Homo sapiens: one gene and its partners. The protein of the gene in region 1 purifies or fractionates together with the protein of each later gene. This does not show direct contact. Each region holds a gene or a part of one and is shown on either strand. Other genes may lie near its edges.

Region 1 (3,182 bases):
ATTAACTCAAGATGGATTAAAGACTTAAATGTAAAACCCAAAACCGTAAAAACCCTAGAAGAAAACCTAGGTAATACCATTCAGGACACAGGCATGGGCAAAACTTCATGACTTATTGACAACTGAAGCTCAACCTATATATAGTTCTTTACAAATTAAAAATGGATAATATTAACTATACGAAGCCCACTAGCATTTACATAAAGTTACTTCAACAAGTTTCATAGGTTTCATGCTACATAATTTAGTGAATATGGCAAACACAGTCAAATTTATTTAGCACCATTTCAGCTAAAAGTATCAGCTTTTAACACAGCTACACGCATCCATCACCACCACCACCACCACACAATCAAACACCAGTATTTCAAACCCAAAAAATCAGTAGCTAATTTACAAAATAAATACTGCTTTTAAAAGCAGTAGTAGGAAAGTTAGGTTAAAAAGCTGTTGCTTGGAATTTTTCAGCTTAGATCCAGGAAAAATTAGCAAATTGAAAATTTTAAGAAAGACCACCATATTTTATTAAAGTTGGATGTGACTGCCCTTTGCAATTAATGTTTCATGCACCAGAAAAGCATAATTTCTGGTTGTCAAAACAATAACTTCCTTGCTAGTTCAAACTATAGTTATACAGCTCTAAAGAAACATTAACAATTTGTATAAATGGGTTGAAAATGTGATTATTTTCTATTCAAATTAATAATGCAAACACGAATACAATGTTACTTCAAACAATTAAGAAATTTTATCCAGTCGTTAGCTAAGTAATGAGGTCGAGTAATCCCCAGTAACTTCCTGTGATACCAAAGGGAATGTATGTTATCTCTAATGAAGCACACCTGGGTCTGTCATGAACTAACAATGTGAAGGTGAGCCCTTTGGCTTCTGGGGGATTTTATTTCCTCTGCTGTAGAATTGAAGGACTTTGTTTAAGGTGTCTTACAAAGACTTCTTGCTTTGCAAAAACGTGTTGGGTGGAGTAAGAAGTAAATTTTTAAAGGCATTTGGACTTTTTTTCTATCTGTAGAACAGCATAATTCAGAACTATTCCACACTGTTGTTCTGGAAAAATTTTCCTCATGCAATGTAATTGTAATGACTGACATTAAAAAGTCTGAAAATGAAACATCAAACAATAAAAATGTGGTTTCAAATCTTTAAAGTGCTTGCAATATTTGGGTTAAAAATGATGCACCACTACCAGTTAGAATATCCCATCTTTGAATTTTAAGAGCTAAGAGTCTGAGAAGGGGAAAAATGACAAAGAGATTGCATTATTCACGCTATTCTTCCATACATGCATTCAGTGCACACCAATTGAAAAGTAAACACCTTGAAATACTACTAAGAAAGCAAAGAAAGATTATTCCTTCCATCAAACACCATACAAAAACCACATTATCTACACACACACACACACACATACACACATGTTGTCTCGAATGAATCAAACAAAATAAAAAAGACCATTATGACTAAAAACGCTGTATGAACCAGCATGTTTTCTGTGTTCCAATGACGCACGTACATTCTGCCTTATTCTAATTGGTTTTTCTTTTCTCTTTCCATCACAAGGACCACTTTCTGAGTTTCTAGTTCAATGTTGTTCCAGGTATTTTACAAATCCTACTTGCTTCAAAGTTACAAGGAACATCATTCCAGGCCCATTTATCTTGGTTATAAACAAGAACAACACAGTTTTCTCCCTGAGAGTTGTCGGGTTCATTCTTATGCCAGAATCTGAAAGAACAACAACATAGATAGAGATTTATAGGTATATATAGACAATGTAGATTATAGGTGTAGATTAGATATAGATATATTAGGAGACAATTCAGAGAAATGTCCCTAGTGAACAGTTTAGAACTGCACTAATACTATACTCACTAGACACATGTAGCTACTGAGCACTTGAAATGTGGCTTCTCTGAATTGAAATGTGCTTTAAGTCTTAAGTGCTGTATTTTGAAGACTTAGTGCCAATGAAGAATGTCAAAGACCTCAGTAATAATTTTATAATGATCACATGTTGAAATGATAAGATTTGGATATATTGGGTTAAATACATTATTAATACGTTATTAAAATACATTTCACTTGCTTCTTTTTACTTTCTTAATATAACTAACAAAAAATTTTAAATTGCACATGTGGCTTTGCATTATATTTTTACTAAACGATACTGGCTTCAAGAAAGAAAATGACAAGATTTTGATTCTCTTTCAAAGAAAATTTTTATCGCTTATATTGTTTATTTAAATGTCAAGCCTAAAACAAATTTTATATCACTTCTATGCTATTCATTCTTTCATTATTGACATTGTGCAAATAAGAATACTGAAAATTGCATGCAAATTATAGGACCATTCTGGAACTGGGACATAGCATATGGAGATTACTCAACCTACAGTGGTCTCTCTTAACATTTTTATATCAATGTACTCCACTTCAAAATGAATGTTTCTTGCTACCATCTTCTAACCTTTGCTTATAAATCCCCTTAGCCCACTCAATATACTTACACTCTGCGTGGGTTAAATGGCGTCTGGTCCACCCAACGCCACTGACCTTTGGCATTCTCATCTCTAAGTCCAAGGAAATAGGAAAGCCGTCTATCCAGAAACTGAATAATAAAGTTCTGCATAAAAATGTAAATTTTAATATAGTTGCATGAATCAGGTGATGGCTATGATGTTGGAAAAAGAGGAAATATGTCAACTAGATTACTGGTTAAGCACAAAAGCTCTGGCATCAGATAGATCTGTTTTCAAATCCTGCCTGTAATGTTAGTAAGTGCTTCAATCTTACCAAACCCCCAGTGCTCTTGTCTTCAAAAGGGACAACTCCACTACTTTATAGAGTTACTAGGAAGATTAAGTGAGGTCAGACTTGCAACCCTTTTAGCACAATGCTTAATAAGATTAGATTTTTTAGGAGGTTTTGTTTTTAATATCTTCTTTAATTGCGTGCATATTTCATTAAATTCCATTTTATTCAGAATTACCGAACCTATACATTGTAAACCTATGGAGACAAAATCCTTGAGGAAACTATTAACCAAGAAAAAGTTAGAATCTGAGTCATGGTACATAAATGGAAACATATTACATGAGGAAATAAATTTTAGCCTTTAAAGAATTTACCCTAAGATTTCTTTACTTATCATTAGATCCATACAT
Region 2 (3,500 bases), on another chromosome or scaffold:
TATTCAAAAACAACAATAGGCTGAGCACGGGGGCTCATGCCTGTAATCCCAACACTTTAAGAAGCTGAGGCAGGAGGAGCACTTGAGCCCAAGAGCTCAAGGCTGGAGTGAACTATTATCACTGCCACTGCACTCCAGCCAGGGCAACAAAGCAAGAACCTGTCTCAAAAAAAAAAAAAAAAAAAAAAAAAAAAGCAACAACAACAATAAGAAAAACAACAGCAACAAAACTGCCAAATGGCTGCGGTTACTTCATTTCCTGTAGCTATAAGAAAAAAAAAAACTAGGAAAGTTATAAAATATGCTGATTTAAAACAACATACAGTTGACCCTTGAACAATGGGGGTAAGGGTATACCATGTATAACTTTTACTCCCCAAACACTTAATTAGTAACAGCCTGATGCTAACCAGAAGTATTATCAGTAACAGTCGATTAACATATTTTATATATGTATTCTATACTGTATTCTTACCATAAAGTTAGAGAAAAGAAAATGTTATTAAGAAAATCATAAGGAAGAAAAATATATTTACTATTCATTAAGTGGAAGTGGATCATCATAAAGGTCTTCATCCTCAATGTCTTCAAATTGAGTAGGCTGAGGAGGAGAAAGAGGAGGGGGTTGGTCTTGCTGTCTCAGGGAAGGCAGAGGCAGAAGAGGTAGAGAAGGTGGAAGGGGAGGCAGGCACACTCAGTTTAACTTTACGGAAAAACATTGTAATTTCTTTTTTGCTTTTTCATTTCTTTAAAAATATTTCTATACAAAACCAATCCTTCTTTCATCATTTGCTTCAGTTTCAGTGCCTGTATCACACAATGGTCCATGTTGTACAGTAAGTCTAAAGCAGTCTTGAATAATCAGAACCCTTCTGCCAGATTGTCTACAGTCAATTTGTTTTCTGGCACTACTTCTTTGCCTTCTTCCTTATCGTCCAACGCTGGTTTGGAAGCACCGGCATCTTCATTAAATCATCTTCTGTTGATTCCTCTGGTTGATGTCTATTAGCTCTTGTCTTATCCACAGTCTCTTTCATAAATTCCTTGACTGGCTCTGCTACAAATCCTGTGAAATCATGCTCAACATCGGTACACAGTTTTCTCCAGCAGGAAGTTACTGTTTTGTGCTTGATGGCTTTCATGGCTTTTTCTATAACGATGGCATCTTCAGCGGTGTAATTCCTCCAGATTTTCATGATGTTCTATTGAGGTTAGAGTACCGTGTGTTATTAACCTTAAAGGTCCTCATGATCCCCTGATCTAGATGCTGAATTAGAGACTGTGTTCGGGGGCAAGTAGACCACTTCAATGTTTTCGGTGTTAAACTCATGGGGTTCTGGGTGGCCAGGGGCACTGTCCAACATCAAAAGAACTTTAAAGGGCTGTCCCATAATGGCAAGGTATTTCCTGATTTCAGGGACAAAGTATTGATGGAACCAATCCAGAAAAAGGATTCTCAGTGTTCAGGTCTTCTTGTTGAATGATCAAAAAACTGGCAGCTTCAAAAGACTTTTCCCTTCAGGTCTTGGGGGTTAGCAACTTTATACGTAAGGGCAGTCAGTCCTGATCATAAACCCAATTGCATTTGCACAGAACAGTAGTTAGCCTATCCCTTCCTGCCTTAATTCCCTGTGCTTTCTTCTTTTCCTAACACTCATGTCCTTTGTGGCCTGCCCCCCTCCCTGCCACCCCGAGAATAGGACACTTTTAACTGCATTAAAGACTTGTTCAGCGGTGCCCAGGAACTTGTCTGCTGTGTCTTAGTCAGCAGAAGCTGCTTCTCCTGTTAGCCTGCCATTTTTAGGCCAAGCCTCTTTCTAAAATTATCAAACCATTCTTTGCTGGCATTAACTCCTCTAGCTTCTCTTCCGTTTTGCTTTAAGTTGTCATATAATAACTTCACTTTTTCTTGAATATCATAGTCTACAAGTATGCCCTTTTTTTTTGTTTTTTTTTTTGAGACAGAGTCGCTCTGTCGCCCAGGCTGGAGTGCAGTGGTGTGATCTCAGCTCACTGCAAGCTCTGCCTCCCGGGTTCACACCATTCTCCTGCCTCAGCCTCCCGAGTGGCTGGGACTACAGGCGCCCGCCACCACGCCTGGCTAATTTTTTGTATTTTCAGTAGAGACGGGGTTTCAACGTGTTAGCCAGGATGGTCTCGATCTCCTGACCTCGTGATCTGCCCGCCTTGGCCTCCCAAAGTGCTGGGATTACAGGCGTGAGCCACCGCGCCCAGCCTACAAGTATGCCTTTCTTATAGCAATCCTGTACCCACATAAGAGCTGCATTTTCAACATGAGATAAAAAGGTATTCTGTAAAAAGTGCAAGGTTTCACACCTCCTGCTGTGGCTGCAGTGATGGCTTCACAAATTTTCTTTTATTTAAAATGGTCCTTATGCTGGATTAATTTATCTTGAAATAACGGGCAACCACAGCTGCAGACCTCATTCTACAGTACATATTAAGCAATTCAATTTTTTCTTGTAATGTCATGACTTTTCTGTTTCTCAGGATTGCTTCTGGCATCACTAGTGGCACTTTGTATAGGTCTGATGGTGTTATTCAAGGTTTATGGTATTGCACTAGACACGATGAAAACACGCAAGAACCACAAAAGACCTCTTTTGATTGCAATATGGGATTTACTGGAGACACAAACTGTTCACGGGGAGATGATCCACATCACATGGTGTTTTAAGCAGACACTTGGAAACATACGAGCTCACCAAAATAGCAACAGGAGGTGGCTACAAAATTATCACAGTAGTACAGTATGTATTAGTTATTTTTATGCAATTATGATTTAATACTGCATCTCTGTTACATTTCTCTTGATGCAAAAGGTGCCTTGTATGGGCTCTGTGTGTTTGAGTGTTAATAAATTTAAACTTTTAATAATAGATCTGTGTATGTTTTATGGTAGTAATAAAATAGACTAGTATCTACATATACTTTAGACATTCATAATATACTTAACTTTTTCTTAATTTCCCCCCCGCCCAATATTTCTAGGTTATGTGGCTTGTCTGTGAGTTTTTCAAGTTGTTGCAAGTCTCTAACATTTTTTCCAAAAGATTTGTTTTTAAAAACCTGTTTATAGAGCTGGGTGTGGTGGCACACACCTGTAATCCCAGCTTCTTGGGAGGCTGAGAAGGAAGAATCACTTGACCCCTGGAGTTTGAGACCAGCCTGGGCAACACTGCGAGTCCCCATCTCTTTAAACAAAAATATCCATGTGTAAGTGAACCTGCAGTTCAAGGGTCAATGACAGTTTAAAAGGGGGTAGACAAAGGTGGGATTAGGGAGGAAACAACTCTTTTGTTGCAAGGACGATACCCTTAGTAGAATCACAAGCTTAACAAAGAAAAATTATACCGCATGTGGTGGCTCACGCCTGTAAAGCCAGCACTTTGGGAGGCTGAGGTGGGTGGATCACATGAGGTCAGGGGTTCGAGACCAGCCTGGCCAATATGGCAAAACCCTGTCTCTACTAAAATTAC
Region 3 (3,500 bases), on another chromosome or scaffold:
GAGGTTGCAGTGAGCCGAGATTGTGTCACTGCACTCCAGCCTGGGTAAAAGAGTGAGAGTGCATCTCAAAAAAAAAAAAAAAAAAAAAAAAAAGAGGAAATCAACCTAAGTTCTCATTTCACTTGGGTAAATACCTAGGAGCGGGAATGTTGGGTCATATGACAAGTATATATTTACCTTCATAAAAAACTGCCAAACGTTTCTCCAAAGTAGCTACACTATTTGCCCTTCCAACAGCAAAGGATGAAAGTTTCCATTGCTCCCATTCTTACCAGCATTTTGTATTGCCGTTTTTTCCTTAGTTTCTCTTAATATCTTAATTTTCACAATAGACATATAGTACTATCTCATTATGGGTTTAATTTGCAATTCCATAATTACTAATGATGTTTAATGCCTTTATTTTTTTTTTTTTTTTTTGAGACAGAGTCTCACTCTGTCGCCCAGGCTGGAATGCAGTGGCACAATCTTGTCTCACTGCAACCTCCACCTCCTGGGTTCAAGTGATTCTCGTGTCTCAGCCTCCTAGGTAGCTGGGATTACAGGCACGTGCCACCACACCTGACCAATTTTGTATTTTTAGTAGAGACGGTTTCGCTATGTTGGCCGGGCTAGTCTTGAACTCCTGACCTCAGATGGTCCACCCACCTCAGCTTCCCAAAGTGCTGGGATTACAGGCATGACCCACCATGCCTGGCCTATGTTTAACACCTTTTGGGGTGTTTATCTGCTGTTCATACACCTTCCTGCATAGTGTCTACTCAAATCTTTTGCTCTTTTTAATTAGGTTGTTTACTTTTTTTAATAGAGATGGGGTCTTGCTATGTTGCCCAAGCTGGTCTCAAACTCCTGGATTTTCAAGCAATCCTCCAGTCTTGGCCTCCCAAAGTGCTGGGATTACAGACGTGAGCCACCATGCCCAGCTTTGAGTTCCTTATACAGTCTATTTTTTGTCAGATATGTGATGGGGAATATTTTCTCCCAGTCTGTGAAGTCTTTTTATTCTCTCAACAGTGTGTTTGGAAGAGCAGAATTTCTTAATTTTGATGAAGTCTAATTTATCAGTTTGTTCATTTATGAATCATGTTCTTGGCATCATGTCCAAGAAATCTCTGCCTGACCCATGGTCAAAAATATTTTTGTCCTATGTTTTCTTTCAAATATTTTATAGCTGTACATTTTACTTCACAATCTATGAACATTTTTTAAAATAGAAACGGGTCTCACTCTTGCCAAGGCTAGTCTCAAACTCCTGGGCTCAAGCAATCCTCCTGCCTCAACCTCCCAAAATGCTGGGATTACAAACGTGTGCGACCAGACCCGGCCTACGAACCATTTTGAACTAATTTTTGCATACAGTGTCAAGTACAGATTGAGGCTCTAATAAAAAGATTTCATTTTGATGTTTGAGTGCAGATTGCCTTCAGGTCCCACACCTCTCTCCCTTTTGTCCCACATCTGGGTAAGTCTGTAAGAAAGCCCAGGTACTCCCTCCCTTGGTATTGGTGTAAAGTTGAAACCATATAAATACCACACTTGGGGACCAGTATTCCCTCCCTTGGTACTGGTGTGAAGTTGAAACCATGTAAATACCACACATGGGGACCATCAAACAAGTTCCACCTTCTGGTCAATAAAAACCAAAGCCACCCACCCTGTTTCACTCTTGCTTCATCCTGGACTAAACCTAAGTCCTTGACCTTGAGGAGTCCTTTTGCTGTTTACTGTGTGATTAAACTTTATTTCATATCCACTGGTGGATTCATGTCACTTGTCCCAATATTCACATAAATTCCTGGGCAAGGGACTGCCCAGTGTCCAACAGTGGATACTTGGTGCCCAAATAAAACAAAGATTGTTTTTTCTTTGCATATGAATATTCAACTGTTCCAGACTATCCTCTGTTGAACTGCCCTTAAACTTTTTCAAAATGAATTGACAATTTTTGTGTGACTAAATTCTCTATTTTGTTCAATTGATCTGTATGTCTATCTTTTCTCCAATACCACAGTCTTGGTTATTGCAGCTTTAAACTAAGTTGAAATCAGGTAGTATGAATCTTCCAACTTTGTTATTCTTTTTCAAAATTGTTTTAGCTTTTCTAGTTCCTTTGGTTTTCCATATTAATTTTAGAATCGGCTCATTAATTTCTATAAGAAATCCTCTGAGATTTGGACTAGAAATGTGCTGAATCTATAAATCAGTTTGAGAAGAGTAGGTATCTTAATACTGAGTCTTCTAATCCATGAACATGATATAATCAGTGTTTCATAATTTTCAACATACAAATATTACACACCATTTGAAAAGTTAATACTTAAGTATTTCATGGTTTTTAGTGCTAATGAGATGGGAATTTTTCACTTTAGTTTCTAATTGTTCATTATTAGTATATAGAAATACAATTTACTGTTGTATATTGACCTTCTAAGCTACAACTCTGCTGAATTAACCTATTCACTAGAGCTTTTTTGAAGAGTCACAGACATGTTGTCTGTGAATAGAAACTGCTCTTTGAAGCACACTGTTTAAAGAATGAAGACAAGCCAACAACTGGGAAAAAATATTTCCCTATCACATCTAGCTATTGCACTCCTAGGCATTAATATAAGAGAAAAGAAAGCATATCTCTCTCCAACAACTTGTACATGAATGCTCATAGCAGCTTTATTCATAATAGTCAAAAAGTGAAAACAATCCAAATGTCCATCAAAGGGTAAATGGGTTAAAAAAAATCATGGTATATTCATAAAATAAAATACTATTCAACAATAAAAAACTATGAACACATAACAACATGGATGAATCTCAAATTATGCTGAGTGTAAGGAGATTCCCCGTGCTAAAAAAAAAAAAAAAAAGCGTATATACAATTCCATTTTTATAAAATTCTAGAAAATAAAAACTAATCTTAAGCAACAGAAAGGAAACAATGGTTTCCTAGGGATACAGAGAGGGTAGTAAGGAGCAAAAGAAGGGATTACAAAAAGTCATAAGGATACTGCCGATGCCCCGGCTAGAGTGCAGTAGCGTGATCTTGGCTCACCGCAGCCTTAATCTCCAGGCTTTGGGTGAGTCTCCCACCTCAGTCTCCCAAGTAGCGGGGACTGCAGGCACACAACACCACACCTGGCTTTTTAATTTTTTTGTAGAGACAGGGTTTTACCATGTTGCGCAGGCTGGTCTTGAACTTCTGGGCTCAAGCAGTCCTCCTGCCTCGGCCCCCCAGAGTGTTGGGATTACAGGTGTGAGCCACTGCGCCTGGCCAAGTATACTCTTTTTTGAGACAGAGACTCATTTCGGTCACCAGGCTGGAGTACAGTAGCACAATCACAGTTCATTGAAGACTCAACCTCCCCAGCTCAAGCAATCCTCCTGCCTCGGCCTCCCAAGTAGCTAGGATTACAGGCAGGCACCATCACACCCAGCTAATGTTATTTTATTTTGTGTAGAGATGAAGTCTTTCTATGTCGCCCAGGCTGGTCTGGAACTCCTGGGCT
Region 4 (3,500 bases), on another chromosome or scaffold:
CAAGGCCAACAGATAAGCCATAAGAAGTGTTAGGCTGATTGTGAGTCGTTGTTTTATTTGTAAACTTTCATGAGATTGGGTGTTCAGTTAATTCAGGAAATCTACTCATCACATTGTTGACTCATTTCCTAAAATCTAAAAAATTTTTTAAATGCCTTCATCTTGCCAGGCGCTGTGGCTCACACCTATAATCCCAGCACTTTGGGAGGCCAAGGTGGGCGGATCACCTGAGGTCGGGAGTTCAAGACCAGCCTGACCCACATGGAGAAACCCCATCTCTACTAAAAATACAAAATAAACCAGGCGTGATGGCGCATGCCTGAAGTCCCAGCTACTCGGGATGCTGAGGCAGGAGAATCACTTGAACCCAGGAGGCGGAGGTTGCGGTGAATCGAGATCGTGCCATTGCACTCCAGCCTGGGCAACAAGAGCAAAAACTCTGTCTCAAAAAAAAAAAAAAAAAAAGCCTCCATCTTTAAAACAAACCCTTTAAAGCTTCTTGTTTTTGTCCTAATGCACGTCAGGTGCACAGAATTGGGCTGAACCAGGATCTTAGCTCATGCCACAGATGATTTCTCATTTTACTAATTGCTCCACTGGGACACAGAGATGTGGTTTATAATAATTTTAAATAACTATAAAGGGTACAGTGTGATTATTAATTGTTTCTTGCCTATGACATTATGCTCTGAAACAACTGAAGCATTTGATTGAGTAAATTATTGATTCGTTTCACTCCTAGAACATAACATAATGATTTCTGGCTCATACTTCTAGGTGAGTAGACTGTGAGCAAGTTACTTAATCTATGCTTCAATAAGTGTTGTGAGGAATAAATGAGCTAATCTATGTATATAGCATTTGGAATAGTGCCTGGTGCATAGTCCACATTCAATAAATGTTAACATTAAATTATTGAAATTTTCTCTAAATGTTGTATAATGAGCATGCATTATTTTTGTAACAGGAAAACAGCTATACAAAATTTTAATATTTCCCCCAAATCTAAAAAAAGCTCAGTAATTTAAATAGTCCTGCCAAATAGTACTTAAAAAGTAAGAGAATTAGACAATCATCATTTTGTCTTTTAAATGTGAAATGGTTTGCAATATTAATTTGTTAAACAAGTTAATTCTTCCAAATCTCAATTCCATTTTCTTTTTTATTAGAGACTTTAAAAAATCAGTAATACATGAAGTCTGTTACAGTTTAAAATGGGGAAAAGCAGTATGCACAGTTACATTGTGTTATTACAATTACAGCTAGCTTAAAAATTATTTTTAAACCATAAGAAAAGCCTAGAAGAAAATACAGACAAATTGGTGATGGGATTATGGTGCTCTCCCACCCCCAACCTGCTTTTCCCCTATTTTCCACAATGCGCCTATATATATACTAAAATATAATTCATTTGTGTAATAGTTACTAAACAAATCTGGTTTATTAACTACAAATACTAAAAAAAATTTGCGTAATAGTTACTAAAAAACAAATCTGGCTTGTTAACTACAAATAGCAGGATTTTATTGTTGTTTTGGAAAAAGCACCAACTTTATGGCAGTTGAATGTCCTTCGGTTAAATGTCAAAACCTTTGCAGTGAGAATTGTTTAGCGGTAAAAGAGAAGGCCTTTCAGAAGCTTGTAGTTTGATCTTCATGAAGAATATTTGAAAAGTCTACCAGTGGGTTTTTAGGATCTGCATATAGACCTAGTCCACCAACCTTGACTTTATGGAAGTTGTGACTTCCCAGATCCAGGCCTGCCTTGATGAGCTGCGTTTTTACAGCACCTTCAGTATATCAGACACCTGGAAGACAGTAATGAGGCAGATATTGGTGCACTTAGTTTAACAGGAAGGTTGGATAGATAAAAACTAATTACAGCACAATTGTATATATTATATATCCTGAGCCCTTTCTAAACTCTTCCCGTATACAGTCTTGCTCAGTTGTCACAACAGCCCAGAGGAGGAAGCTGAGGTTCCTTAAAGGTCTGAACCTTGCTCAAGTTGCAAGGACAGAATTTGACCCAGAAGCATCTTAACTCCACATCTCATGCCCTCTGCACGGAGATGGAGGTGCATCCAGCCAGAGGTGAGAGTGAAGTGGGCTTTATGGAGTCAGTTTTGCTTAAAAACTATAAAACTAATCAAGAGAAACATGAGGAGGAGACTCCTTTTAGGTGACCTTCCTGAGGAGAATCATCAGTGCCTCTCCATCAGGCTTGCCACTCTTTAGCCATAGCAGTTAACACTTCCAAATGGCTGCTGAGACCCAGCAGGCCTGAAGCGCACACAAAGGCCCAGTCCTTGGTGACCCTGTGAAGCCTACCTCTTTCATCCCTGGACTTCCAAAGGGGGTCTGGATAGTACAGATGAAGGAACTGACTCGCTAAATCCTGTTCTAGAACCAGCACATACCCACAGATCCTGACCTCCCCACTTTCCTCCCTTAGGAATGACAGGAGAGTAGTTAACAGGTAGCATGGATCCAGGGCAGATGGTGGAGGTGACTTGACTTAAGATAACTTGTAGCTAGATTATTCCATTTATTGGAGAGTCTCTCTTGAAAATCATATCTGATGTCACTTAAGTGTTTGGTTTATCATGTTAGTCTTTATTGGGTGTCGTAAAAGTGCTCAGTTGTGAAGTGTCTGGTTACCATCCTGTGACAAGGAGGGTTTTTGTCTTCTTTTAATGGGTCTGCATTTCAGAGAATTACTGTATAATAAAAACTGGAGTGTTGGCTGGGTGCAGTCGCTCACGCCTGTAATCCCAGCACTTTGGGAGGCCGAGGCGGGTGGATCACAAGGTCAGGAGAGCGAGACCATCCTGGCTAACATGATGAAACCCCGTCTCTACTAAAAATACAAAAAATTAGCCGGGCGTGGTGGCGGTCGCCTGTAGTCCCAGCTACTTGGAAGGCTGAGGCAGGAAAATGGCGTGAACCTGGGAGGCAGAGCTTGCAGTGAGCCGAGATCGTGCCACTGTACTCAAGCCTGGGCAACAGAGCAAGATGCCATCTTAAAAAAATAAAAAAAAAAACTGGAGTGTTGGAGACTGTTAAGAATTAATACTTTCAGTTCTGCCAGAGGGTTAGTATCTAGAAGTTCTAAGAGATTGGTTGCTAAAATCTTCTGTAATTTTCAGTTTCATTGATTGTATAATAAGTGGGTGACTTTGGGCCCAGAGAGTCAGAAGGCTTTGTATTCTGTATGCTTTCTGACACAGTAGGCCACCACTCCCCTTGCAGGCAAGGTCATGTAATTGACATAGGATCCCCTTTAGTTGACCGAAGAGAGAAGTATAAGCTCTGGTTGAACTTGAGTTTGCGTGATCACACATGCTCACTGGAGTGAAGTCTGAATCAGTTGCCATCTCTGCACTTGCATTGTGTGTAGAGAATTGTCTTGATTCAGAATGGCTTTGTGCAAACTCACATGAGCCCATTGGAGGCAGAATCTTAACTTCATTGATGTGAAATAATCAGGCTTTTATTTAG
Region 5 (3,500 bases), on another chromosome or scaffold:
GAAACCCTGTCTCTACAAAAAATACAAAAATAAGCCAGCCGTGGTGTGGCGCCCATCTGTAGTCCCAGCTACTCAGGAGGCTGAGGTGGGAGGATCACTTGAGATCGGGAGGCGGAGGTTACAGTGAGCTGAGATTGCATCACTGCATTCCAGCCTGGATGACAGAGCAAGACCCTGTTTCAAAATAATAATAACAATAGCTCCCTCTTGGGACTCCTAGGAGATGTGAAGAGATCACATAGGTAAGGGCTTCACCCTGGAGGCCATTGTTAGTGTCCAATCCTCCCCACCCTGCCCATCTGGTCCTGAAAGGACTCATTTGAGTCTCTCCAAGCATCTGAAGGGAAGGCAGGCCAGAGATTAAAACCCCCATTTTACAGGTGAGGAAACAGGTGAGAGGGTAAGTGTACAGTCATTTTCCCGTTAGAGCAGAGACGACGAATTCACACTCTCACTGGATTTCTTTTTTCTTTTCTTTTTTTTTTTTTTTTAAGATGGAGTCTCTCTCTGTCTCCCAGGCTGGAGTACAGTGGCATGATCTCAGCTCACTGCAACCTCCACCTCCCAGGTTTAAGCTATTCTCCTGCCTCAGCCTCCCAAGTAGCTGGGATCACAGGTGCCCACCTCTATGCCCAACTAATTTTTGTATTTTTATAGAGACGGGGTTTCACTATGTTGGCCAGGCTGGTCTCGAGCCCCTGACCTCAGGTGATCGGCCCACCTTGGCCTCCCAAAATGCTGGGATTACAGGCGTGAACCGCCGCACCTGGCCTCACTGGATTTCTATACAAACTCAAGAAGCAGATCATGATTCTCATTTGGTAGATAAGGCAATAGAAGTGTGGGGAGGGCCGGGCGCGGTGGCTCACACCTGTAATCCCAGCACTTTGGGAGTCTGAGGCGGAGGGGTGGGAGCGGGGGGATCAACTGAGGTCAGGAGTTCGAGACCAGCCTGGCCAACATGGTGAAACCCCGTCTCTACTAAAAATACAAAAATTAGCTGGGCATGGTGGCAGGCGCCTGTAATCCCAGCTACTGGGGAGGCTGAGGCAGGAGAATCGCTTGAACCCAGGAGGTGGAGGTTGCAGTGAGCTGAGATCGCGCCATTGCACACCAGCCTGGGGGACAAGAGCAAGACTTCTTAAAAAAAAAAAAAAAAAAGTGCACGGAGGAATGAATGAGCTCAGGATCACATTCCTAAGAAGTTAATGATGGAACCAGGGGCTTGTCTTTGGAGCTCACAGCTTCTCGGATCTGAAGCTGGGGTGTCTTGGGGGAGGGGCACGGGTCCCAGCATTGGTAATGTAGCTGCTGGCTGGAGGGCTTAGTCACCCGTAGTGAACCCTCTGGGGCCTCCCCAAGCTGCTGGGCAAACTTCCTACCCACAGGGTGGCCAGTGCAGATCTGCCTCCAAGGGGCGACAGGAAGCCGGGGTGAACAAGGGACAAACTGGGTCTGGTCGCACCTGGTTACCCGATAGGAGGGAAGGCCCCCGGACAGTGGGCCCATGTGTGGGTGACTTCTGTCCCCAGTCCCTTGCTCAGCACTGTCCTCTCACCTCTGTAGGAGTTTCTGTGTGACCAGAAGTACAGTGATGAAGAGAACCTTCCAGAAAAGCTCACAGCCTTCAAAGGTAAGCTGGGGCGGGCTGCCCTGCATTTATTCCTGGGGGAGGTGGGCTGGCCCCTCATCCTTGCACACAGGACCCCTCAGCCCCACAGGACTAGGCTGTGGCCCTGTTTTGTCCAGAATGCCCTTCTTCCTGGAGAAGGCTTGGAGACAGGGACCCCCTGAGAGGTGGGGAGAGGCCCCTCCACCTGCCTCCCTGCCCCTGCGGGCCCCGTCACCCCTCGCCTGCAGCCCGGTCCTGGCCCTGCCCCTCTCTCTCCCCTCACTGCCCACGGGGCTCAGGCTGGTTCCCGTCCGCCGCTGCCCAGGCCCCGTCACTCCCGGGCCCCGCACACAATCAGCTCTTTGTGAGCAAGCCTTGCCTCTCCCCCTCCCCAGCAGAGCGTCTCAGGAGCCCCTGCGGAGAATGGACGTTTGTGTCACCGCAGTGGGGCAGGGGGGCAGAGTTTCTGCCCATTGAAACCCGGCAGCACGGGATGAAAAGAAAGCAGGGCCTGGGAGCCGGCGCGGGGAGAGGGGCAGCATAAAGGTCCCTCTGTTTGGGGCCCTGGCGCTTGGTTCCCAGCCAGCACCTCGAAAGGAGAGGAGCCGGGCACATAGGGGGCAGCGCAGACCCACCTTCCCTGCCAGGGGAGGCACTTAGGCGCAGGAGCCCTGGGCTGTCATGGAAAATATCCTGGAGGTTGCATTCCCCTCCAAAGTGTTTGCAGTGTGAGCATCCTCCCGGCTCCAGGGCAAAGAACTTGGCCAAGTGTTCCTCAAATCACTTCCAGTTGTCCTTAGGCTGGACATCTAGGGCTAATCATATTAATAACAGCTGGCATTTGTTGGACGTCGGCCTGTGTGAAGCACTTCTCGTGCGGCGTGGCGAGCTCCCCACATCACCCCAATCGGCCTGGAGGAAGATGGCGCACTTGTTAATGTGCAGATGGAGAAACTCGGGCTTGGAGGGCGGGGTTGTTGGCATGGGGACACATAGCTCGCCTAGGGCAGAGTTGGGACTTGAACTCATGTCGGTCTGGCTCCAAAGCCCCTGCTCTCAACTGTTACGCTATGATGCTTTTTACATGAAGAAGAGAGAAGGGAAATAGTAAAAGACACTCCTGACCCCACCCCATCCCAGCCACCTGTAGGAGAGCTGTGAAAAAGAGAGCAGTCTATTCCCTTCTGTCTGCATACCAGCGTGGCCACTCCCAGGGGTGGCTCTGGGAGGAGGCACGGGTCTCAGGGCTCTGGCACCCTTTCTACTTGTCTTCACTGGAATGTTGGGCCAGACAGGAAGTTACATCATTCACTCATTTGTTCTCCAAATGCGCACCTGTACATGTGCCAGGACCATTCCAGGCCAGGGGCACCATGGTGAACGTAAAAGGCAGCTCCCACCCGGGAGCCTGTGTTCTCGCTCGGGGGGCGGTGTGAGAGGTGGTGGGAGACTAAACAGAGAGCCGGGAAATACAAGGTTAGCAGACTGTGGTAGGTGCTTCAGTGAGAAATGAGGGAGGGAGGACAGGAGTGCTCAGCTGTGGGGAGGGGGTGCAATTTTGAAAGGGTGGGGAGGCCAGGCACGGTGGCTCACACCTGTAATCCCAGCACTTTGGGAGGCCGAGGTGGGTGGATCACCTGAGGTCGGGAGTCCAAGACCAGCCCGGCCAACATGGCGAAACCCCATCTCTATTAAAAATACAAAAATTAGCTGTATGTGGTGGTGGGTGCCTGTAATGCCAGCTACTCGGGAGGCTGAGACAGGAGGATTGCTTGAACCCAGGAGGCAGAGGTTGCAGTGAGCTGAGATCAAGCCACTGCACTCAAGCCTTGGTGACAGAATGAGACTCCATCTCAAAAAAAAAAAAAAAAAAAAAAAGCATAATGGT
Region 6 (2,767 bases), on another chromosome or scaffold:
TTCTGAGGTCTGCATAGAAAGGCATGGAGAATAAGGGCACAGGTTTTTCTATGCGCCTTGGTTCTGTGAAGACTTTTTGGATACTGCAGTTTGGGCAGCCTGGATTGTTATCATAATACCACAACATTCTTCATCACCAATAAATTACACAAATCCCTTGGAAGTTTTCATTCCAAGACATTAAAGCAAATAATACAAGATTACTACCTAATTTTTTTAAACTCTTGGGTGATCTTCCTATACTCTCTACATATTCTTTAATATCAATGATTCACACAGAGCAGCATGAGATTTATCCATTTCAGTACAAAAACAGATAAATCAATATCAGAAAGGATCTCTTCTCTGAACATGTACATGTTGAATGTAGGTTGGGGCTGCTCAGACCTCAGTCTGCTTAGCTTCAGAAAATCTATCATGAAAATTCCTTAATATACAAAAATAATCCTTGCATGTGGAGATTTCTTAATTCTCCCTTTTCTAAGTCTTAAGAAAAACAGCCACCAGTAACTGAAAATGTCTTAATTTGTATGCGTATTCTAATTATGAAGGACCTGTCTAAAAGTTTTCTGGTAAAAGTACATTAACTGTGTACTCAAGTGAAAGGCTACTTTTAGAGTTGGTTCATGCAGATCTTTAGCTTAGTCTCCTGAAGACAGAGAGCACAAAAGTGTGAGCTCAAGGCCAAATACTTGGAACAAACAGCAGACAGAGGCTCACTGCAGACCCATATGAACAAAAGGACCACAGGAGACTCACAAACTAGATTCTCCCTAGCTTTGGAGTACATAATACTGCAATCAACTGCACAGATTCAGTTCTCCAATTTTTCCAGATTATTCTGAATATTTAATTAAAATAAAACTAAATTATTTAATTTGAAAACAACCATCATCACATCTTCTATTACATCAAAGATATTCTTCTTTTCTAAACCAGATGACAATTTCTTAGTCTGCCTCAAAGCTGAGAGAACAGTATTCAAAAAAATTCTAAAATTCCACAGGTATCAGAAATAATGTTTACAAGCCTCTGAGATAATGTCCACGACATTTCAGGTTTATCAATAAATAATATTTTTAATGCAGCTTCAAAATGATTTTTAAACAATTATCTTAGTATTTCCATAGGATTTAGATGAACTAACCAGACAATCCTGTATTTCCAACATCAAAATAAATTTCTGAATTGGAAATTTGGGAGTTTGCTTCCCCTAAATATCATATCAAGCTCTTCCTTCACACCTAGGTGGTTATTTTCAGATGCAGCCTCAATTGAATAAAATGCTTTAGCTCTTACCACCAAAAATATCAATACATTGTAAATCACCTACCAACAGCAAGGAGTAGTTGCTCTAAATTGCCAGAAGTCTCGCGGTCAATGGTTTCCTCAATTTGAAATCCTGATATAGTCATGTACTTGTCAAACACTAGAAAAAATAAAAATGATTCCCTAATCATGTAGGGATCACTCTTTCCAGAAAGATGGTATTTACTTTGATTAGGTAGTGTCTTACTGAACACAAATCTCCCCTTCTTCCTTGCTGACAGAACCTTGTGCTCAAAGCCTCAATGTGCCAAGCCCTAAGCAATGGATTGTAAATATACTTTGTTCACTGATTGCCAGCCCCCTTACGAGTTATAGCCAATGAGACCTAAAGGTAAATCTACTGGAGGGGATGCTGAGAAATCTCCTCACTTACAAAAAGTGATACACAGATAGGACTAGTTTACCCTTTTCTTTCCTTCCTGCTGTGAAATGGTTAAGTTTGGAGCTAGAGCAGACATCTTATGATAATGAAGAAAGAAAACCAAAACACTAGGGATAATGGAGCAAAAAGAAAAACCAGAAAGATCTCAGGTCCTGCCAAATCAACCATGGAATCCCACCTCTGGAAAAAAAGCCCAATTTTTAAAGCCACTATTAGGGTTCTCTGTCACTTGCACTAAATTCATTCCCAACTGATACCACAAGTGCTGATGACTATCCAGAGATAAGGTCCTGGGTACCAACCTCTAGGAGGAAATACGTGTAGTGAGCCACTATTCAGTGATGTGTGACTATGAGAGGAACAATCTAGAGAACTGACCTCCCTTGCCATCCTCCAATAGTGAAGGGTGGACTCAGGATCTCTAGTTTGTAAAAGCTACAACAGCAGCAAAAACAATGTTGAGATTTCTCCAGGTCACCAAAAGGAAGAAATACAAAAACTGATTCATTCTCTAAGTCCCTGCTATGTAGCAGGTATTCTGTCACACTGGCTCATGCACTTTCCAAATTTACCAATGTATCTGCCCCATACAGATTTTTTTCACTCACCCTTTCTCAAATGAGACACACTTCGTGTTCCAAAGATGGTGATAAACTTTTCTTCATCTGTCCCCCATTTAAGTTCTCCAGCCTGAAATAAAGCCTGCAAAAATTTCAAACTCAATTAATAAATTGTTCCTCCATCTCATTTCCAGGTTCTTAAACACACTTGTTTTTTACTCCCTGAATTTTAACTCACTTGATTCATCATCTTGTATTAATAGTTTTCATTTCTAATGTGTCCTACTCTGAAACTCAGCTCACTGAGTTTGGAGCACCTTTGGAGCTTGCCACTGAACTGTGCCACAGAAGATTCATGGGTCCAAGCAACAAAGCACGGCAATGGTGCAAGGTTACATGTTCCCAAAATGTCTGCCATAACCTCCAATCTTTCAGAAGCAACAGTATGGGTCAGGAGAAAGTTATGACTACCTCACTGTTGATACATCCATGTATA
Region 7 (3,500 bases), on another chromosome or scaffold:
GTACGTGTTAAAGCCAGGTGATGGGTATATAGGGTTTACTGTACTATAGTCTGTCTTCTTAATGTGTGTTTAAAATTTTCCATAATAAAAAATCTTTTAAAAAGAATCACTATGTTTAGAAGTTTGGGGTTTTACCCAGAATAGAGATTCTAATTGTGGGGGGATCTGCCATGTAGTAAGTAACTGTTACCTTGGAGTTAGCCTTCTGCTCCCTCTAGGACAAATAGTTCTTGGTTTATTTAGCGAAAATTTTTTGCATTTTGGGATTCTTAATTCTTTTTGAGATGTTTGGAACAGTCCACTGCATTACTTACCCTGTTGTCAATTATGTCTGTGAAATTTGATATTCTGATTGTGAAAGGATATTTTTGACTAGTACCTTGGAATCACATTTGAATAACAAGTTTTATGATTAAATTTGGTATTAAAAATCCAAGCTTCAGTTATACCGTGTATTATATTATACAACAGTTTCATTCTTAGAAAGCTTCATATACACTTAATTGAACTGAATTAAATTTTAATTGTATTAGGAGAGTTCATTATTTAAGTCAAACTATAGATAATTCTTATATAAAATAGCCCTTTGGTTTATATGCAGATAGGTAAAATTTATGCCAATATACCTGAGCAACTGTTTTATGGTATTCTAACGTTTAACACATGATGGAAGGCAGATACAATTTTGAGGCGGGAAAGCTATTTGTTATATCACTGTCTCTTTATTTCAGAATGAGAGGAAATAGAAAATAGGTAGGAAGGAAGATAAAAGTCATTTAAATATAGTATTTCAAATATTTTTTTGCTGCTATTATATTGGATAACAAAAAACAAATACTGGCTTCATTTCTATTCTCTGGCAAGAGGATGAACAATCATATAAACTCAAACTACAGAAACTTAAAAGTTTTTGTATTTTTCAAGTTTATTCTCAAAATTGCTTAAAAATACAAACTTACAAGAAAAATTACTATGTCTCATTTCTATCATAAACAGAAGGTCTTATCACAGGAAATTTAAAAACCAAACAAGTCATGCCTTTTAGCTTTGATCTCTGTGGTTTGCACTGTGCACCCATTATACTTTCCAGCTATATCTTACCAGATTAGTTTGCCTCTGACAAATACAAAAGTTCCCAAAGATTGATTAGAGTAGAGGTGATAATTGAAGTGTAATACACAAGAAAATGCAAAGTAAAACAAGTATTTTAATGTGTAGGTTTCAGAGAATATAAACAACATTAACTGAAGACAATAAAATACCATATAGTCTACAAAGTAGAAGAGGAGAAAAAGGAGGAAAAAGGGAAGAAGAAACTAGATTCTGAAGCAAAGTTCAGCCAATTTAAGGTATAACTTAATAAAGTATGCTAAACCTAACAGACAGATATAAACCAGTAAGTCCACGTGGTAGCAGCCATAAAGTGAAAACAGGTTTACTGGTTCTAACTCAGGATGTTCTGGGCATCAACAAGGCAGTCTATCAAATTATAGCAATCCCACCTAAAAATGATGAAATTAATTGTATTTACATATCCCAAAAAGGAAAGCTAAGGTTCAGATGTTTCAAATACCCCCAAAAGATCAAGAAATACCTAAAATAAAATTTGACATTATCAATAATATGAGAAACACATGAAGGCATTTTCCATAAGAGTCCACTCACATGTTTCCAGGGGATCCCTTCCCGCTGGTATTCCTCTTGTTCTTGCTTCAGAACCAGCTGAATAAATAGCTGCTGCAGTTTCTCATTGCAGTAATTGATACAGAATTGTTCAAAACTACAAGAAAAGGAATAAATTAAGTTTCAACAAATAGAAAACAGGCAACAAGGTTTTAAGTATCTTTTCCAGTTTACCTGTTGTTGTCAAAGATTTCAAAGCCATAGATATCCAAGACACCAATAACAGTGTTTTTCCCATGGATTGTGGTGTCATAGTTCTTGACCTCAATAATATCATTGATGCGAGTAACGATCCAACAAAAAAGGCGCTCATATATTGCCTGCAAGGAAAATAGCATCATAAATGCTTGCCAATTTGGGAATGAGTCCTCTGTTTGGATTTGTGATCAGTTTTAAATTCCTGTCCACCTTCTCACTGTTTAGCATAGCCATTACTGGCCTCAGCAGAACAAATGAAAATGTAGACTGTCCATTTAAAAAAACCCAAACTACCTGATGTATGCAAAACTAAAGTAAATAGCTTGTATTTTTAAAAGATTATTACCGGTCATTATACCAATTCCAACGACACTCTCCAGGCATGTTTCCCTGCCCGGCTATATCAATAGTTTGCCTGATCCCTTGAATAAGCCAGTTCATTGCTTTATTATTAATTTCATCAACTATAAAGAGTTGAGAGCTAGTGAGTTAATATCTATGATCCACTAAAGCTATATGAATTCTAAAAAATATAAATATTGATTTCTAATGCTAAATGAAGATCTGAGCCAAAGATCAAGGGTTGAAATTCCCTGAGAATCGAACACACATCCAATGCACAAGAACACACACACTAAGCCACACATGGACAAAGGTGCCACACGCTAACACACATTCACATCCCGATACACATGTGCTCTGCAACGTCACATCGTTAGAAAACCTTCCTTAACGTCTCCTGCCAGCTACCCACTCTCTTCACCCATATCCATTACCTCCCCTTTACTCTTCAATCCACTCCAGTCTCCACTTACATCCTATTACTCCATTGAAATGGCTCATCAAAGACTCCCAGCACCTCTACATAGATACTTCTCGTACCTCATATGGACATCTTGCTCTGTCGCTCAGCATCACTCAACCTAGGTTTTCACTGCCTTCTTGGAACACTCTTCTCTCTGGATTTCGGATAATAGCCTTTCTGAATTTTACTCTTTGTTCACTGGATGTTCCTTTTTGGTGACCTTTGGTAGAGTCTCCTCTTCTACCTGACTTGTAAAAGTTGGAGTTCTTCCTGGTCCTCTTCTCTTCACTCTCTAGCACCTTCTAAATCATCTCACCCAGGATTAAATAATACAAATATAATATGACTCCCAAAAGTATTATCCAAATCCAGACTCAGAGAACAGTCTCTGAGCTCCTGACTCAAGAGCTTGACTGTCTACCTGACACTGACTCTTCAATGGCTCACAGCCATCTCAAACTCAAAGGACTCTTGATCTTTCCTCTTCCAACAACTGTTCCTATCCTACTTTTAGCCACAAATAAATAGCACCACTTAGAAATTCACTGATTTATTCAACAAATATTTGCTGAATACTTATTATATATAGTTTGTTAGAGATACAGGTCTAGGCAAACACAAACATAGTCTCAATGTCCAAGAAACTTAGGGAATAGAGTGAAGGAAAAAATTATTCTCTCTGTCTCTCTCACTTGCCCCCCACCTCGCAGATAAACATCCACACTAAAGGAGAGGTACATGGGGTCTTAGGGAAATTTAATCTATGCAGTGCTCAGGAAGGTTAGGGAAGGCCTCTCTGGGAAAGTGATACTTG

What was found.
Region 2: the proteins of CLEC4D (region 1) and RAB10 purify together in Homo sapiens (affinity purification with mass spectrometry, with the first as the bait; one large-scale study listed by BioGRID). This does not show direct contact.
Region 3: the proteins of CLEC4D (region 1) and P4HA1 purify together in Homo sapiens (affinity purification with mass spectrometry, with the first as the bait; one large-scale study listed by BioGRID). This does not show direct contact.
Region 4: the proteins of CLEC4D (region 1) and GNG12 purify together in Homo sapiens (affinity purification with mass spectrometry, with the first as the bait; one large-scale study listed by BioGRID). This does not show direct contact.
Region 5: the proteins of CLEC4D (region 1) and AIF1L purify together in Homo sapiens (affinity purification with mass spectrometry, with the first as the bait; one large-scale study listed by BioGRID). This does not show direct contact.
Region 6: the proteins of CLEC4D (region 1) and ANXA5 purify together in Homo sapiens (affinity purification with mass spectrometry, with the first as the bait; one large-scale study listed by BioGRID). This does not show direct contact.
Region 7: the proteins of CLEC4D (region 1) and MYO1D purify together in Homo sapiens (affinity purification with mass spectrometry, with the first as the bait; one large-scale study listed by BioGRID). This does not show direct contact.

Annotation. Positions count from the first base shown.
Region 1 is NC_000012.12:8,519,685-8,522,866, reverse strand, and holds the end of CLEC4D (C-type lectin domain family 4 member D), read right to left. Parts: intron 2,642-3,182; coding exon 2,526-2,641; intron 1,744-2,525; coding exon 1,596-1,743; 3' UTR 501-1,595; downstream 1-500.
Region 2 is NC_000002.12:26,121,084-26,124,583, reverse strand, and holds part of RAB10 (ras-related protein Rab-10), read right to left. Parts: intron 1-3,500. UniProt on the Homo sapiens protein: The small GTPases Rab are key regulators of intracellular membrane trafficking, from the formation of transport vesicles to their fusion with membranes.
Region 3 is NC_000010.11:73,086,867-73,090,366, forward strand, and holds part of P4HA1 (prolyl 4-hydroxylase subunit alpha-1 isoform 2 precursor), read right to left. Parts: intron 1-3,500. UniProt on the Homo sapiens protein: Catalyzes the post-translational formation of 4-hydroxyproline in -Xaa-Pro-Gly- sequences in collagens and other proteins.
Region 4 is NC_000001.11:67,826,968-67,830,467, reverse strand, and holds part of GNG12 (guanine nucleotide-binding protein G(I)/G(S)/G(O) subunit gamma-12), read left to right. Parts: intron 1-3,500. UniProt on the Homo sapiens protein: Guanine nucleotide-binding proteins (G proteins) are involved as a modulator or transducer in various transmembrane signaling systems.
Region 5 is NC_000009.12:131,110,031-131,113,530, forward strand, and holds part of AIF1L (allograft inflammatory factor 1-like), read left to right. Parts: intron 1-1,566; coding exon 1,567-1,633; intron 1,634-3,500. UniProt on the Homo sapiens protein: Actin-binding protein that promotes actin bundling. May neither bind calcium nor depend on calcium for function.
Region 6 is NC_000004.12:121,670,214-121,672,980, forward strand, and holds part of ANXA5 (annexin A5), read right to left. Parts: intron 2,414-2,767; coding exon 2,320-2,413; intron 1,430-2,319; coding exon 1,334-1,429; intron 1-1,333. UniProt on the Homo sapiens protein: This protein is an anticoagulant protein that acts as an indirect inhibitor of the thromboplastin-specific complex, which is involved in the blood coagulation cascade.
Region 7 is NC_000017.11:32,758,625-32,762,124, forward strand, and holds part of MYO1D (unconventional myosin-Id), read right to left. Parts: intron 2,004-3,500; coding exon 1,858-2,003; intron 1,781-1,857; coding exon 1,666-1,780; intron 1,503-1,665; coding exon of another isoform or gene 1,488-1,502; exon of another isoform or gene 1,188-1,487; intron 1-1,187. UniProt on the Homo sapiens protein: Unconventional myosin that functions as actin-based motor protein with ATPase activity. Plays a role in endosomal protein trafficking, and especially in the transfer of cargo proteins from early to recycling endosomes.